Homo sapiens: one gene and its partner. The protein of the gene in region 2 interacts with the protein of the main gene of each other region in a pairwise test. Each region holds a gene or a part of one and is shown on either strand. Other genes may lie near its edges.

Evidence for each region. The genes of interacting proteins can lie anywhere in the genome.
Region 1: the proteins of CFAP418 (region 2) and ZNF106 interact in a two-hybrid assay, tested with the Homo sapiens proteins (one study listed by IntAct).

The regions. Positions count from the first base shown.
Region 1 is NC_000015.10:42,412,217-42,419,173, reverse strand, and holds the end of ZNF106 (zinc finger protein 106), read left to right. Parts: intron 1-1,222; coding exon 1,223-1,369; intron 1,370-1,720; coding exon of another isoform or gene 1,721-1,813; coding exon 1,814-1,870; 3' UTR 1,871-6,351; downstream 6,352-6,957. UniProt on the Homo sapiens protein: RNA-binding protein. Specifically binds to 5'-GGGGCC-3' sequence repeats in RNA. Essential for maintenance of peripheral motor neuron and skeletal muscle function.
Region 2 is NC_000008.11:95,244,327-95,252,984, forward strand, and holds the end of CFAP418 (cilia- and flagella-associated protein 418), read right to left. Parts: intron 7,958-8,658; coding exon 7,862-7,957; intron 3,445-7,861; coding exon 3,291-3,444; 3' UTR 587-3,290; downstream 1-586. UniProt on the Homo sapiens protein: May be involved in photoreceptor outer segment disk morphogenesis.

The sequences.
Region 1 (6,957 bases), on a different chromosome or scaffold from region 2:
TGGTCTTGAACTCCTGACCTCAGGTGATCCGCCTGCCTCAGCATCCCAAAGTGCTAGGATTACAGGTGTGAGCCACCACGCCCGGCCTGTATTTTTTTTTTTTTTTTTTTGGTAGAGAAAGGGTCTCACTATGTTGCCCAGGCTGGTCTCGAGCTCCTGGGCTGAAGTGAACCACCCACCTCGGCCTCCCAAAGTGCTGGGATTACAGGGTGTAATCCCACTGAGCCACCACTTAGGAAGCATAAGACACTAGCTTATGCTTTCTAATACATGAAATTAAGCCACGTTTATAAGTAAAATTATAGCTTAAAAAAATAAGTAGGTATTCATAAGATTGAGATTCAAGTGACAAAGGTTGTGAGTAAAGTCAGGCTTCCATGGCAAACACAGTATTCTACAATAAATATTTCCACAAATGTAGTTTTCTTTATCAGACATTTTTATTTTCACATTTACATTCAACAGTTCTTAGAATTGTTAAAAATAGCCCTTTCGGGCGGGGTGCGGTGGCTCACGCCTGTAATCCCAGCACTTTGGGAGGCCAAGATGGGCGGATCACTTGAGGTTGGGAGTTTGAGACCAGCCTGACCAACATGGTGAAACCCTGTCTTTACTAAAAAAAAAAAAAAAAAAAAAAAAAATTAACTGGCCGTGGTGGTGCACGCCTGTAATCCCAACTATTTGGGAGGCCGAGGCAGCAGAACTGCTTGAACCCAGGGGGCAGGGGGCAGAGGTTGCAGTGAGCCGAGATCGTGCCACTGCACTCCAGCCTGGGCAACAGGAGTGAAACTCCATCTCAAAAAAAAAAAAAAAAAAGCCCTTTCGATATTATAGGAAAGGTATTTGCCTTTTGTATTGAATAAACTAAGATAGAAACTCAATTTTATGATGGCAACATCAAAAAATACAGTTTAAACAGAATTTCATGGTAATTTACCCATAAACATTTGCTGGCCTTTTCCTGATTTAAGAAGTTGTAATTGCTACGTTAGTGCTGTGCCCTCTCAAAATATCAAAAGATTTTTCCAGTATTTTCAAGGTTCCTCATTATACTGATATTTTGGTTGCCTTGGCTTTGTTGTCTTTTCTAGCCAAGAATAAATTTGAAATAAGGGGCTGGCTTTTTGCTTCCATAGTGCTTATGGGATCCAGCTGGGGGCTGTTCTGATTCACGTTCACTGCACCCTTTTTCACCGAGTCTCCTCATTTTCTTTCTCTCCAGTGGCATGGTTGCTCTCTGATATTTGGCGTTGTAGATCATTTAAAACAACACTTGCTGACCGACCACACTAATCCCAACTTCCAGACTCTGAAATGTCGCTGGAAGAACTGCGATGCTTTTTTCACTGCTAGGAAAGGATCCAAACAGGTACATTAGTGGGACTTGAGGTTTGCCTGGGATTCAGTAGACTGCTCAGAGCAGGGGCTAGCAAACCTTTTTTATTATTGAGAATTGCCATATATAGGGAGGGCCTAGGGTTTTTTATTTTTATGATTCAGAGATTTGGGGGGTAGCTTAATGAAGTTGCAAATGAAGAATTAGGTCATTTTTGAGAAAGGGCCTAAAGAGAATGTTTTCAGATGTTTCAAATCCAGTAACTGAACCTGGAGATTTATTACAGTGCTCTTGTGCTGAGACAACAGCTCACCTTTAAGTACATGGTTTCACGTAAGTTAGCAAAGTGCTGGCTCCTAACTGCCTTTCCTGTCTGGATCCTAGGTGGAATGGACCCACATGGCTTTCCTTGGCTTTGACTTTCTCCTGTCTTACTATCGACTTCTCTCTCATGGGCCCTTTTCCCTTCATTCCTAGGATGCTGCAGGACATATTGAACGACATGCTGAAGATGACAGCAAAATTGATTCATGAAGTTTTTTGCCTCCCACGTTGGGAAGTCATTAGTTGAACTATTTTCACATTGGCCCCCCACACAGGCCACTCTCTTCCCTTTCTTGGTGAAGTAAGGAAGGAGAAAGTGGTTACTAGCCAGGCATACCCCTAGCATAAGTCTGGGCAGCTCTATGGGATGATAAATTACACTTTTAAGTTCTTGCTGGAGGTTTTAAATAGATTTAGACAAATGTTAAGGAACCATACTTCTCTGGGACAGCATGGCATATAGTGATATATGCTATTTGCGTTCTCCAGATGTTTATTGAAGATACAGATCCTAATTGGTTACCCAGTTTGACCCTAATCATATGTATATTTTATTGATTTCAGTTTGCAATTTTTAATTTATGTTCTTATGATGGTTTAAACCTATAGTCAGGCTTTTAAGTACAAGTTTGTTTAAGTGCCAGACTTTGAGGATCAGTTTTAATTTCTCCATTTGTAATAGCTGGGTATTTAAACTGGAAGCAAATAGTTTTCTTTCTTAACAATTATGTGCAGTGTGTGTCACTGTTTTCTTGCTTTATAGATAGAGCTGGCTTTAAGTGCTAAAGGACACAGTAGATTTTTGACAAACAGTGGCTGCTCTGCTGACTATCTTTTAGGAATTCAGGAAGCAAATCACATAGTGACAAGTCCTTACAGACACCACTTCTAGTAAATCTCTGTAAATGTGGATAGAAAGCTCAGTGTGAGGCAGTGCGTAGACCTAACGTCTACCTTTACATCTGCTGTTGAACCTGGGCACTACCTGTTACAGATCCTGTCAGGCTGTTGAACTGGAGGTGTACCTTTATCTTCCTTTCTAGTGTCTGACCCTGCAAGCCTAATGTTGGTTTGAACCCTTTTGGTTTGTTCAGTTGCCAGCCTCCATCTCTCCCACTGTATGGCCGTGCCTAGACCGATGGCAGCCATCGAATATTCCTCTGGGCTCACGGGGTGTTTTCCACCCCCCTGCAGCAACTAAGATGGTGGGGGAGAGGGGGTTAGAATAAAGCATCTGAATACAGTTTTCAGGACCTCAAGCAGACTTCCTAGAGACTTGTTTCTGAGACAGTTCTTTGCCTTCACTTCCCTGCTAGCTGGGAAAGAAGAGTGGAGCAGAGACTCTGCCTGGCCACTGAGAACAGCCAAATTCACAAACCCTCAGTGGGGCTTTGTTTTTGGATTTTCTCCGGACTCATCAGTAAACCTGTAGAAGTGTCGCTTTCCAGCCTTTTGTTTCTGGATCCTCAAAACTCAGAACGTGGCCGGGCGTGGTGGCTCACGCCTGTAATCCCAGCACTTTGGGAGGCTGAGGCAGGCAGATCACCTGAGGCTAGGAGTTGCAGACCAGCCTGGCCAACATGGCAAAACCCCGTCTCTACTAAAAATACAAAAAGCCGGGCGTGGTGGGCGCCTGTAATCCCAGCTGCTCAGGAGGCTGAGGCAGGAGAATCGCTTGAACCCGGGAGGCAGAGATTGCAGTAAGCTGAGATCGTGCCACTGCACTCCAGCCTGGTGACAGAGTGAGACTCCGTCTCAAAAAAAAAAAAAAAAACTCAGCTTCTTCAGAGAGATAAAATTGGGGGAGGAGCCCAGGGCCACATACCAAGCTTTGGGACATGGTGCCTCATGCTCTCTGGGATTGCAGACCATCCAGGTCTGTCTTCGCCCCTGTTAGTGCACATATATCCACTCACATGTCTTCCCTCAGGCTATCGGGCAGGGGGACTTCACCAGGGGGTTTATGGATAGGCTTCAAGAGGGTCTGTGAGCCCCCAGAAATTGTGTGTGAGACTGAGTATGTGTTCTTTTTTCCAGGAAAGGCTCCAGTGGTTCTTACTTGATCCAAAAAATGTCAAGAATTAATCTAGGAGGCCGGGCCTGGTGGCTCACACCTGTAATCCCAGCTCTTTGGGAGGCCGAGGCGGGTGGATCACTCAAGGTCAGGCATTTGAGACCAGCCTGGCCAACATAGTGAAACCCCGTCTCTATTAAAAATACAAAAATTAGCTGGGTGTGGTGGTATGTGCCTGTAGTCTCAGCTACTCAGGAGGCTGAGACAGGAGAATCACTTGAACCCTGGAGGTAGAAGTTGCAGTGAGCCAAGATCATACTACTGCACTCCAGCCTGGGCGACAAGAGTGAAACTCCACCTCAAAAAAAAAAAAAAAAGAGTTAATCTAGGAGATAATGAATGGCCTAGTACTAGATAATATATGGCCCCACAAGCTCTTGACTTCTGTCCTTGGGGAAAGCCATTTTGTTAACCACACTAGTGAGATTTACATGATGCTTAATGGAGAACAGAGAAGATCTTGTTGCAAAAGGTGTATTAAATATTTGTGCTGTTTCTGTATGAGATTGAGAAGCTTTTCCCACCTCTCACCCCTATTTCCTATAAGGATATCCAGAGAAGCCAAACTGTTCTGTGGGTTTGGGAATGGTCATTTCCCGGGAAAATGCATCTGGATCGATGACTAAACCTGGCCCTTTTCTCTGGGCTGTAGTGAAGCCGCATTTTCACGCTGGCTGGCAGTGTGCTGAGAGCCTCGAATGCTCTGCGGCGTAGTGCCCTTCTGCCCTGCCTGACGATGTATCGAAAAGATGAGAGTGAAGGAGACTTTGTGCAGCAGGAAACGGGTAGGTGAGGTGTTGGGCAGTTGTGGGAACTTCTGAGAGTATTACAGAGTGGTAGAATCGGTAAGAACTCTGATTTGGACTTCGCTTTGGTGGAACTGTGTGCCTATACCTGCCTGTGTGTGTGCAAGTGTGCAGGTTCCTTTGTATGTATGTGTACGTGTGGGAACCTGTGTTTGTCATATTTTTCTTCATTTCACAAAGGCTTTTTTTGAAGCAGTGGCAGTATGCCTTTGTTTCAAGAACACATGAAATTCTTTTAACACCAGATTAGTGTGTTACCCCAAATGAACGGTTCTAGCCCTCTATTAAGAAATAAAGGGACCATAAGCATTTTGGCTGCTTATGGCTGTGTGTTACTACTTACAAGAGTCTTGAAAATTATACAGAACTTTGCCTTCTTTTTTTAATGTCTTCCACAATGTTGTGACTGATTATAACCCTGTTTCCCCTCAGAGAAGAGCTATGGCTCAGGGATCTGTGTTGACTCTGGCATTTAGTGGCTTTGTGAAGGAAAGAAACCATTAAATGACCTGACAAAAACTGACTCATGTCTTTAAAGTAGTTGAAGCCACTTTTAGAATGTTACTCTCGGTTGCTTTTGTCTAATTCTAATGGCTTAAAGCCAAGAAAACCATAGTATAAATCTTTTTGTGTACCTATGCTAGTGTTTAAATGGCAGTTCGTTGTGATAAAGTATCAGTCACTTCAAGTTTTCTGTGAAAGTTTTTAATTAGGTTAAAAATAATTTTGGCATACGTCTCTACTCAGTTTATAAAGCAGTTCCACACCATGCAAACAAAACTCTAACAGCAAAGGTTATCTTGACCTGATGTTACTTGAATCTGAGAGAAAGTCATTACTTACTACTGCACTCCTGCTTTTGTGGGAAAAATTTTCTTCTTCCCCAGAAGAGTTAACAGTTGAGTGTTCAGCTCCTGACTTACCTTTAATTTAGAGGCAATATTATTACTGTTTAAGTGATTATTTGCTTAACACAGGTTTTATTTTGTCTTTTTGCTGGTAGATTATACAAGGGACAACTTTAGTGATGAGGCATGTGGATGATTTGGTGGGAGTAGGTATATACTTAGTGGAATGGTTTATTTTATGGAAGAGAATTCATTGGAGGTGAGATTGAAGTATATTGTGAAGTGGGATTTGAACAGCACATATGCTCTGGTTTGCTCAAATAACTGCAGTTTATGCTTACATCTAAATTTTGTTTCTGTTACCTAAACGGGAGCTTCTAGAATTACGAAGGCCATACCTGCCACATTTATAAAATAATGGTTTTATCCCTGCCCCCAAATCATCAGGTTCCTCGGGTTTAAGAGAAGTGGTCTAATAGACAGGAATAGAAGTTGTGGTGGAGGTGATTTGGGATAGACTAGGTTTCCTTATGCAAGTGGATATGAGCTCCTCATAGAAACCAGACCTACTGTATTAGACAGTAACCTCTAACCTCACCTCCAAGCCCAAGTATATGGCCCTGCTGGGTTACCTGGTGACTACATTTCCCAGATTCACTCTAAATTCAAGGTAGTGACCCAAATAAATTGGGAAAGGAGGGGGTCAAGGAGGAAAAGCTGTTGAAAATCTTTCTCCTATTTAAGAGAAATATATGCCCTAGAGCTGCTCCAGCACCCTTGGTTTCTGATTTTTTTAATATTGAATATGGATTAGAAGAATGAAATCAGATGACACCTGACTGCAAAAATGTTTATAAGCAAATAGCCTTCTTACATTTTGGTATAAAGCTGTGAACTTCGTAACTTTGTAAAGCAAGATATAAAGCAAATACAAGAGGAAAATAAAGTACTTTTACTAATTGACGGTTTACTTTCGTTACCTTGTCTGCATATTCACGGCCAGCCCTTTCCACGTTGGCTTAGCGAGGAAGAAGGAAACTGGGTGGAAAACACAGGATGCCTATAGATATGCCGCAGGCCATGGTCCAGAGAAGTTTAGCAAACAAACAGCTGCGTTCAGGGTTTTGTCCACGGTCATGCGACAGGTCAGTTAGTGAGCAGAGGAGCTAGGATAGCTCAATCTCCACTCCATTATTCAGGTAACCGGCCCCTCCCGTTGTACATGACCCATTTATTCTTGATGTCTTTTACAGCAACAACTATTCCTCTGCCTTCCTTTTATGTCTTGGAAAGTATCTGAGCCATTCTTATGCTCAAGAAATAGCAATAGGCATGATTACAAAATTCAAGATTTTGTTTTTGTGTGTGTTTTTCATTGTTCTCTTGTAGGTGATAGGTGAGTATATGATTGGAAGCCATTCAGTCATGCATGGCTGATATCTAAATGTGAGACAACAAAACACAAGGGGACCAGCCATACACATGCCTTTATTTAGATCAGCTTTTTTCAAAATGCAGCCAAACTTATGAGTTGGACAGCCCAAAGTAACCAGCCCTATTCCACTGAGT
Region 2 (8,658 bases):
ACAATGCTTTTGGATACAAAGACCTTTTTCTTTCATATTCTTAAATATCAGTAAGAAAAAGAGAGAAAGCAATTCAGATTCATAGTCTGATGACATATTCTCTGGCCTAAGAAAAAAAGGTACTAAGTTTACTGACATCAACGAACAGGTTCTAGGTATACACCGCCAAGTCAGCATGGCCTGTTCTTCCTAAACTTGGACCTGTTCCTTTGAATACCCATGGTACTTTACACATGCATGCACACACATACTCTCTTTACACATGCATGTACACACACACACACACACACACACACACACACACACACACATCAGAGTTATGGCATACTTCTCCTCCCCAGTGTAGACAAATTATCTGTTTAACTGGATGCTTGGAAACTTTTCTGTTGACATTAAAAAAATTTTTTTTGACTGGGCATGGTGCTTCACACCTGTAATCCCAGCACTTTGGGAGGCTGAGGTGGGAGGATCGCTTTAGCTCAGGAGTTCAAGGAAGCAGTGAGCTATGATTGCACCACTGCACTCTAGTCTGGGCAACAGAGAGAGACTCTGTCTCAAAAAAAAAAAACATCAAAATGATTTCAAATTAATGTCCATCCAAATGAATATTTTACTATAAAATAAAAGAAGTAAATAATACAGAGTAATTATTTATTACTTATTCATTTCTAGGCAGGATGAGGGTCTGAGAGTATAATACAGTTCAAATAAAGAAGTTACCTGGCTTAAAAATAGCTACTTGCTAAAGATAGAAAATTATTATAAATCTTAAAAACAAACAGGCAAAACATCTTGAAAGTTTTATAGGCTTTGCATTTTAAAATTATAGATGATTAGAAACTATACTTTTCTTCTATACTGATACTAAAATAGTTTCATTTTCAGCTTAAATTACAACAGTTAATAATTTATCTGACTGTATATAAACATAATATTCTTTCTACATTTTAGTTTAAAATAGTACAATATTAAAAAGCTTATAAATTGCCAATAAACATGGGAACTCACACATACATTTCTGACATTGGGGGATTATTATAATTATTATGTTATGGAATGCCAAACATAGGCAATGTATGTAAGTTTTAGGATAGTTATAATGAAATAATAAAAGGGAAAAAAAAACCAGGACAACTTTGTCCCTTCAAAGTAGAGGCAATGTAGGCTACTTTGGGAGGCTGAGGCGGGCGGATCACGAGTTCAGGAGATCGACATCATTCTGGCCAACATGGTGAAACCCTGTCTCTATTAAAAATACAAAAATTAGCTGGGCGTGGTGGTGTGTGCCTGTAATCCCAGCTACTGGGGAGGCTGAGGCAGGACAATCACTTGAAGCTGCGAGGCGGAGGTTGCAGTGAGCAGAGATCGTGCCACTGCACTCCAGCCCGGCAACAGAGTGACACTCCATCTCAAAAAAAAAATTTTTTTTTTCAAATTAGTGATTTAGTAAATTTGCTTACTGGAATAAAAAAGAAAGAATTGCACCATTATGAATAATGTGTCAAATTCTATGAGGTTCTAAATGTGTGGATCTTGTTGCTCTGCTATTTTTTTCCAGCAGTCGACTTCAATCGACATCCCCCTAGGTTTCTGACTCAATTACATATAGATATAACTTTAGGGATATAATACATTTTTATTAAAAGATAAAATCTGTCATAATGTCTTTTTTTTTTTTTTGAGACAGAGTCTCACTGTGTTGTCCAGGCTGGAGCGCAGTGGCGCGACCTTGGCTCACTACAACCTCTGCCTCCCAGGTTCAATAAATTTTCCTGCCTCGGCCTCCCGAGTAGTTGGGATTACAGGCATGCACCACCGCGCCCAGCTAATTTTTGTATTTTTAGTAGAGATGGTGTTTTATCATGTTGGCCAGGCTGGTCTTGAACTCCTGACCTCAGCTGATCTGCCTGCCTCAGCCTCCCAAAGTGCTGGGATTACAGGCGTGAGCTACCATGCTTAGTCTGTCATAATATCCTTAATACAAAAGTGTGAGGATTGGCCATTATAAGATCTATTCTGTTGCAATGCTAGACTTACTACAATAAATTTTACAAGTATGTAAATGTGTCATGGCTAGGAAAAGGATTCTAATGATCAGATCTTCCTCCCTTCAGTAGGGTGGCTGGAATAAATTTAGCATAAGACTAAGAAGATTATAACTTTGTTTCAATTATTCCCTTTCAGGGTGCTCTGTATCACACATTTGAACTATATAGTACATATGTAGCAGGGAGTTTGTGGCAGATTGGAAAGCTCCCAAAATCTCTCAATGGGGTTGGGAGCTAGAAATTTTGAGGGACCTGATTTCCTGAATGTGCTGCTATTGTAGGGCTCCTCAGATCTCAGTGATGTCAGGAAGGAGCCCAACAGGTTACCTGTTGGTTCAGTTATGCTTTACTTGTCTTTTCACTTACTCACCTAATAAACGATATGTCAACCTGATCCTACCAGAGAAGTCCACAGGCTGCCTGAAAAATTATATTACTTGCTGTTTACTTCCCTTGATGGAGTTTTAGGCATTAAAGGATAGAAAGTACTTGGAAAATCCAACAATAACCTGTATGTATTAGGATTTTTGTGATTTTGGGTGCATCAAACTCTTTTTATATATTATTGGGTAATCAAAATAGAAAATAACTTTTGATAGTTAAATGAACAAAAGAGGGAAAAATAAGCTAAAACTGGTAACATGTATTTAATATTGTGCATAACATTGCTTTGAGTTGATGAGGTAAGATCAGCTATGAGGCAGTGTTTTTGCAAAATACCTGTAACTACTTCTGAACACCCTTCAGTCAGCCACTGATCACCTGGTTTCTGCCATGTCCAAATTATGATCTTTGGCAACAAAAGATCTGACTGGAAGAAGTGTTGTAGACACCCCTAAATGATCTCTTTGCCCTGGCCGGCTTTATCCACTTTAACTGCTACAAGTTGGGGAATGATTTGCTAAACGTATTAGCAATCAATATTGCAGTTGCTAATGAAAAACTAGATATTTGTATGGAACTCCATAATCAAACCTCTATTAAACAGAAGACAGATTAGTAAAGAATGTAGATGCCTGTTACTAAGTGAAACATCCATGTATCAGGAATAATTCCAAAGTGTTATAATACATGATCTTCCTTAGTCCATTTGGTCTTCAAAAATGTATGTAGTTGTATCAATAAAATTCACTGCCTTTTCCCACAGGGAATGGTATTGCTAGGGACTATTGTCTAAACATGATGATGATTCATGGAGACCACTCTCATGGATGCATCTGTCCGAATGTGCAGTCTGCATTCTTAATGTTTACCACAAACCCAGCGAAGCTGATGATCTGTCTGAAGGTCAGTCACTTCTTCAATAGTTCTCCAGCTACACTGGCAGGCATATGCCCGTGTTCCTTTCTTCTTTATCAACTTTGCTTTTAATTTGTGAAATTCTGGCATGTTGTTCCTATTAGTAAAACAGGAAAGTTTTAGCATAGTGGCTTTGTTCAGTGCTTAATGATTAAAAAAAAAAAAAAAGGTCATTGCTTTCTTTTCTTTTCTTTTTTTGTTTTTAGGAGTCTCATTGTTACTCAGGCTGGATTGCGGTGGCACAATCATGGCTCACTGCAGCCTTGACCTCCCAGGCTTCCCCTCAGCCTTCCAAGTAGCTGAGACCACAGGCATGTGCCACTATGCCCGGCTTAAAAAATTTTTTTTTGTAGAGATGAGGTCTCAGTATGTTGTCCAGGTTGATCTCAAACTCCTGGGCTCAAGTGATCCATCCACCTCAGCCTCCCAAAGTGCTGAGATTGCAGGCATGAACCATGGTGCCCAGCCTATTTTCTTATCTTCCCCGTATCTGAACACTAAACAACCTAGATCCCCTCACACTAACACTAGAAGATATGCTTCAGTGTTCTCTTTCTGATGGTATTTCTTTGATAATCTGTACTTTTTATGGCAATCCTCTAGGCCAGTTTATTGAATGTTGAAGAACACAATAACCTAAAGGCTGAAGAATTACAAACGCCCTATCAGAGATGAAATAATATGAAAATAGGGTGGAAAGGATGGTGGTTCATTTCCTACCTCAGATACTCACCTATGCCATATTTTAAAAGCCTGTAATATGGCAAGTTGAGAGAACATTAGAGGCATAAAGATCATAGGTTTCTGATGAATTAACTATAGAAAATTTTCATTAGCTTCAATGATCTGTTTATTCATACTATCAGCAACAAAAATGTCTATCCTGAAATAAATATTAATAATGTTGAAATAATTAAATCAACAAGTAGGGCCATCGTAAAAATGATAAACACTGGATTTCATACTATTATAAAAAAGACTACAGAAGTTTAATTAATAAAAACATCAATTATGATTTCATGATAATCCATGTAATGAGTTCATATAAACATTCCATGGCAAAGAAAAGTAGAAAAAATTTTTAAAAAAGATGAAAAAATACAAAGTGAAAGGACGAAATACAGTATGAATACCAGAAAAAGAGATACGGTACCTAACCATTGCTTGTGGATATCACTGCAACAGAAGGCAGGCTACAAAGTGCCCTCTGGTGGTCAATGGGCACCATATTCAGTATTAAACTGTACGAAATTCAGGCACAATTTAGAAGGTTAGAACCTCACAAAACCTGACAGATTTTCCAAGCCAACTGTCTGACTTCAGGAAACAGACTGACTAGCTAAACGACTTAGCTAAGGGAAGAAATGAATAATCTAAATTTTAACAGAAAGAAAAAAACCCCGCCAAAACTAAGTTGTTGAGGAAAAATGTCCTTTATTTGATCTGCAAAATATTTTGAAAACTTAACATTTGATACTTGACTGAATCCTTAGCGATTTTAGGATTAGGAATCATGAATAGGCAGGGATCTAATTATGACATTTGAAATGGTTTTTAAAATGCACGTATCTTAAAAGCTTAGGGAAAAATCATTCCATTCTTAAAGAAAACACGATTTAATAGAAAAATAAAAGCATTTTCTTCAGCTGTTGTGGCAAGGTGGTCAGTAAGTATAGCTGACACTTCTTTTACAATGTTCTAAAACTTGTCTGGGTGTGGTGGGTCATGCCTGTAATCCCTGCACTTTGGGGAGCCAAGGTGGGTGGACCACTTGAGCTCAGGAGTTCGAGACCAGCATGGGCAACATGGTGAGACCCCATCTCTACAAAATTAGCTGGATGTGGTAGTGCGCACCTGTATTCCTAGCTGCTCGAGAGGCTGAGGCCGAAGGATCCTTTCAATCTGGGAAGTGGAGGTTGCAGTGAGCTGAAACTGCAGTCCTGCACTCTAGCCTGGGTAACAGGGTTTGCAAGATTGGCTCAGAAAAAAAAAAAAAGTTCTAAAACTTCTCAAAGATAGGATACATTTATTTCTCTCATCTGTAAAATAGGACAATAAAACAACTGCACAGCATTCCACTGTGTAACATTTAACTTGTCTTTGGTCACTGTCCACTTCTGGTTTCCTCAGTGATTATTCCACATCCTCCTCCACTCCCTTATTTTCAGCAGATCACATCTTCATTCTCAAAACCAGGTCGCCAGGTATGAAAGCCTTCAATTTCCTGGCAAGCTCACCCTGAACACATCAGTACCTTGCTGGCTTCCTCTCAGTCACAGAGGTCTTCCTTTTCCTATCCAAGGCTCACCTCCCATCAGTGCTCTTGACCCTATTGTCTCTATGACCTTGCTGCTCACATGCTTGTCCCCACCCATGTCTCCCTTCCCCTGGGTTCCTCTCATCTTATGAGCCCAGTATCTAAGAGTGTCATAGACTAGGTGCTGAATAATGTCTACTGGTAAACACCAATATATTGTACAAAATAAATCTATCAGTGATTTATATCCTAATGGTGGAGACCGCCTTATTCTTTAGCTGTTCCATTCTCTTATCTCCCAAACATATTCCTAAGTGTCTTGAGAACTGAGACAGTATTTTCTACTGATTTAAATAATGACTACTTGTTTATTTTTAATAGTATAATAAATCCTCTAGTTGTCACTGTTTTATCTAAAAGTACATATATTTTTTAAACCAGGCTGCCACAGATCTAGGGTAAACCAACTGGTGTTCTTGATAACTCTGAGATGCTGCAAGTTCCTCAAGTACCGACTAGGTTATCCATAGTTTACTTTATGCCTGTGTTCACCACTGCCTTGATGTTACATGCATTTTATTATCCTATGATAGTTTTATAAAAATTCATGCTTCATCTTGGTGACATATGGGGATTATTAACCACTTATTAGATTAACTAGTAGACAGTAAATAGCAGAGGGTTTAGAAAAGTCAGAAAAGGGAAAGTCAACCTGTAATTAAAAGCCAACTTTTCCACTTATGGGGTAAAAAGTGGGCTAAGCCTAAAAGTATGGGTTCCTAACCTCAGATTTTGGGAGTACATTAGGCTTTATTTGGGTTGGAAACTGTAAAATTTTTCAAGTTATAATTTTTCCATGTATTTTTATATTTGAATTGTATGTGTATGAGGGGCATTCAAAGCTTTCATAAGATTTGCAAAGTGGTTCTTGATGTGAAAAAGTTTAAAAACTATTAAATTAGGGTATACTCATAGATTTACCCAAGAATGGCTGCCAAAAAAGGCGTAGGGGAAAGTCTCTTACCCTTTTCTTTATGCTATTGAAAAGTGCTGCAATATTACACTGTATTAATTTTTAGCTTTAAATTTTTATTTGAAAATGTCAATGTAAAGTTCAAATATATTTTTATAACTTGTAACACCTTAAAGATAGTAGGTATTCTGTAAGTGTATAAGAATGTACAAATTATATAAATATGAGCAAGACATTATCTCAGCCACAAGGAGGGAGGTAGTCATACACCAACCTAAGAGCTTCAGTTTTATATTACAGTATATAATAGGTCCAAAGCACCGTGAATACACAGGAAGGGAAGAGTTTTCTTCCAGTTGAGAGAGTGGTGAAAGAATCATGGAAGACATGTGATGAATTATACTCTGAAGGACAGGTAGGGTTTAGGTAGATAAAATGGTGGGAAGGCATCCCAAGAGGTAAAGAGGTTGTACAAAGTCAGAGGGAATGGGAGCCTTGAGTACTCTGATGTAGCTAAAATCTTGCAAAGGTGAAATATACATTGTGGGAAGACAAAGCTGGATGATGGATGGATGGGAGCTGGATTATGGAGGGTCATGAATGCCATGCTAAGGAATTTGGACATTATTCTGTAAGTGGAAGGGTGTTGAGCAGGAGGACGGTATACTCTGAGCTATGCTTTAATTCTGAACAAGGGAAGGATGGTCTGAGAGAAGAGATTGTAGCCAGAAAAACCAGTGAGGAGGTTACTTCTGTATTCTTGTCCAGAAGTAACATGTCCTTATCTAGGCTGACAGCAGGCAGATGGAGAGAAGGAGATGGATGACAGAAACACAGTCATGCATTGCTTATGCTTTGTTAGGCAATTCCATCATTGTGGGAATATCAAAGAGTGAATTTATACAAACCTAGATGGTATAGCCTACCACACACCTAGGCTATATGGTATAGGCTACTGTTCCAAGGCTACAAACCTCTACAGCATGTTACTGTTTATACCAGCATCACCACAAACATGTGCAATGCATTGCAGTATAATATTACAAAGGCTATGATGTCACTAGGTGATAGGAATTTTTCAACTCCGTCATAATCTTATGGAACCACCATGTATATATATATATGCAGTCCATCGTTGACTGAAGCATCATAACGCAGCACATGACTATACTGAAGAGGTGAAGCCCACAAGATCTGGCTGAATCCACCCAGAGAGAATATATCAAAATAGGAAATATAAACTACTTGGTACTTTTTTCAGAGTGAAGTTCTTTAGCAACATACCTGAAAAACAGATAATCACACGATTTGTCCCACATATAGTCATCATAGCTGACTACCAAGAAATCACAGGCTATACAACGCAGATGGTCACATGCTCTGTTCAGAGAAAAAAAATTGTATATTAAAGATTATTGGTATCTTTAAATACCAATGAAAACATGGTGATTTATTTATAGGATACACCACATATTACAGATTACTGAATAAACAACAGAAAAGTACAGATTAATCTGATTATAAATCTTTATACTAAAGCATTATTTACGGTCTAAACCTTAAGGTTAAATTTTTGCACAAACCTACCTATTTTACTATGATCTTGTACACTGAACTTACACATATATTATATAGATATGAAAGAAAATAGATTTGTAGATCTTTTAATTCCATGGTTTTCAAATTACGTCTGAGGGAGATCGTCATATAAGCTAACTTCTTTAAATGCTCCCCTTCCTACTGAAATTTTCAGGAATATCTCTACCGAAGAATATGTCACATGACATTGAAATGAATCTGTTTTTCAGATAAGCTGCTTAAGCGCTGGGAAAAGATTGTATTTGTTTGCTTCCTCACAACTTGGCATAATGCATTCATTCACTCAAAAAATATTTATTGAGAGTCTGGTATGTGCTAATGAGATTCTGTCTTCATAGAGCTTTGATTGCAGTGAGAGAAGAAACAAACAATGCTCATGATAACTAGACTATATACTAACCTGGAGGGATATCTGAAGCAAGGTGCACACTAACATATATAGCATGATCCTATTTTTGTAAAAACGACCCCCACAAAAAATT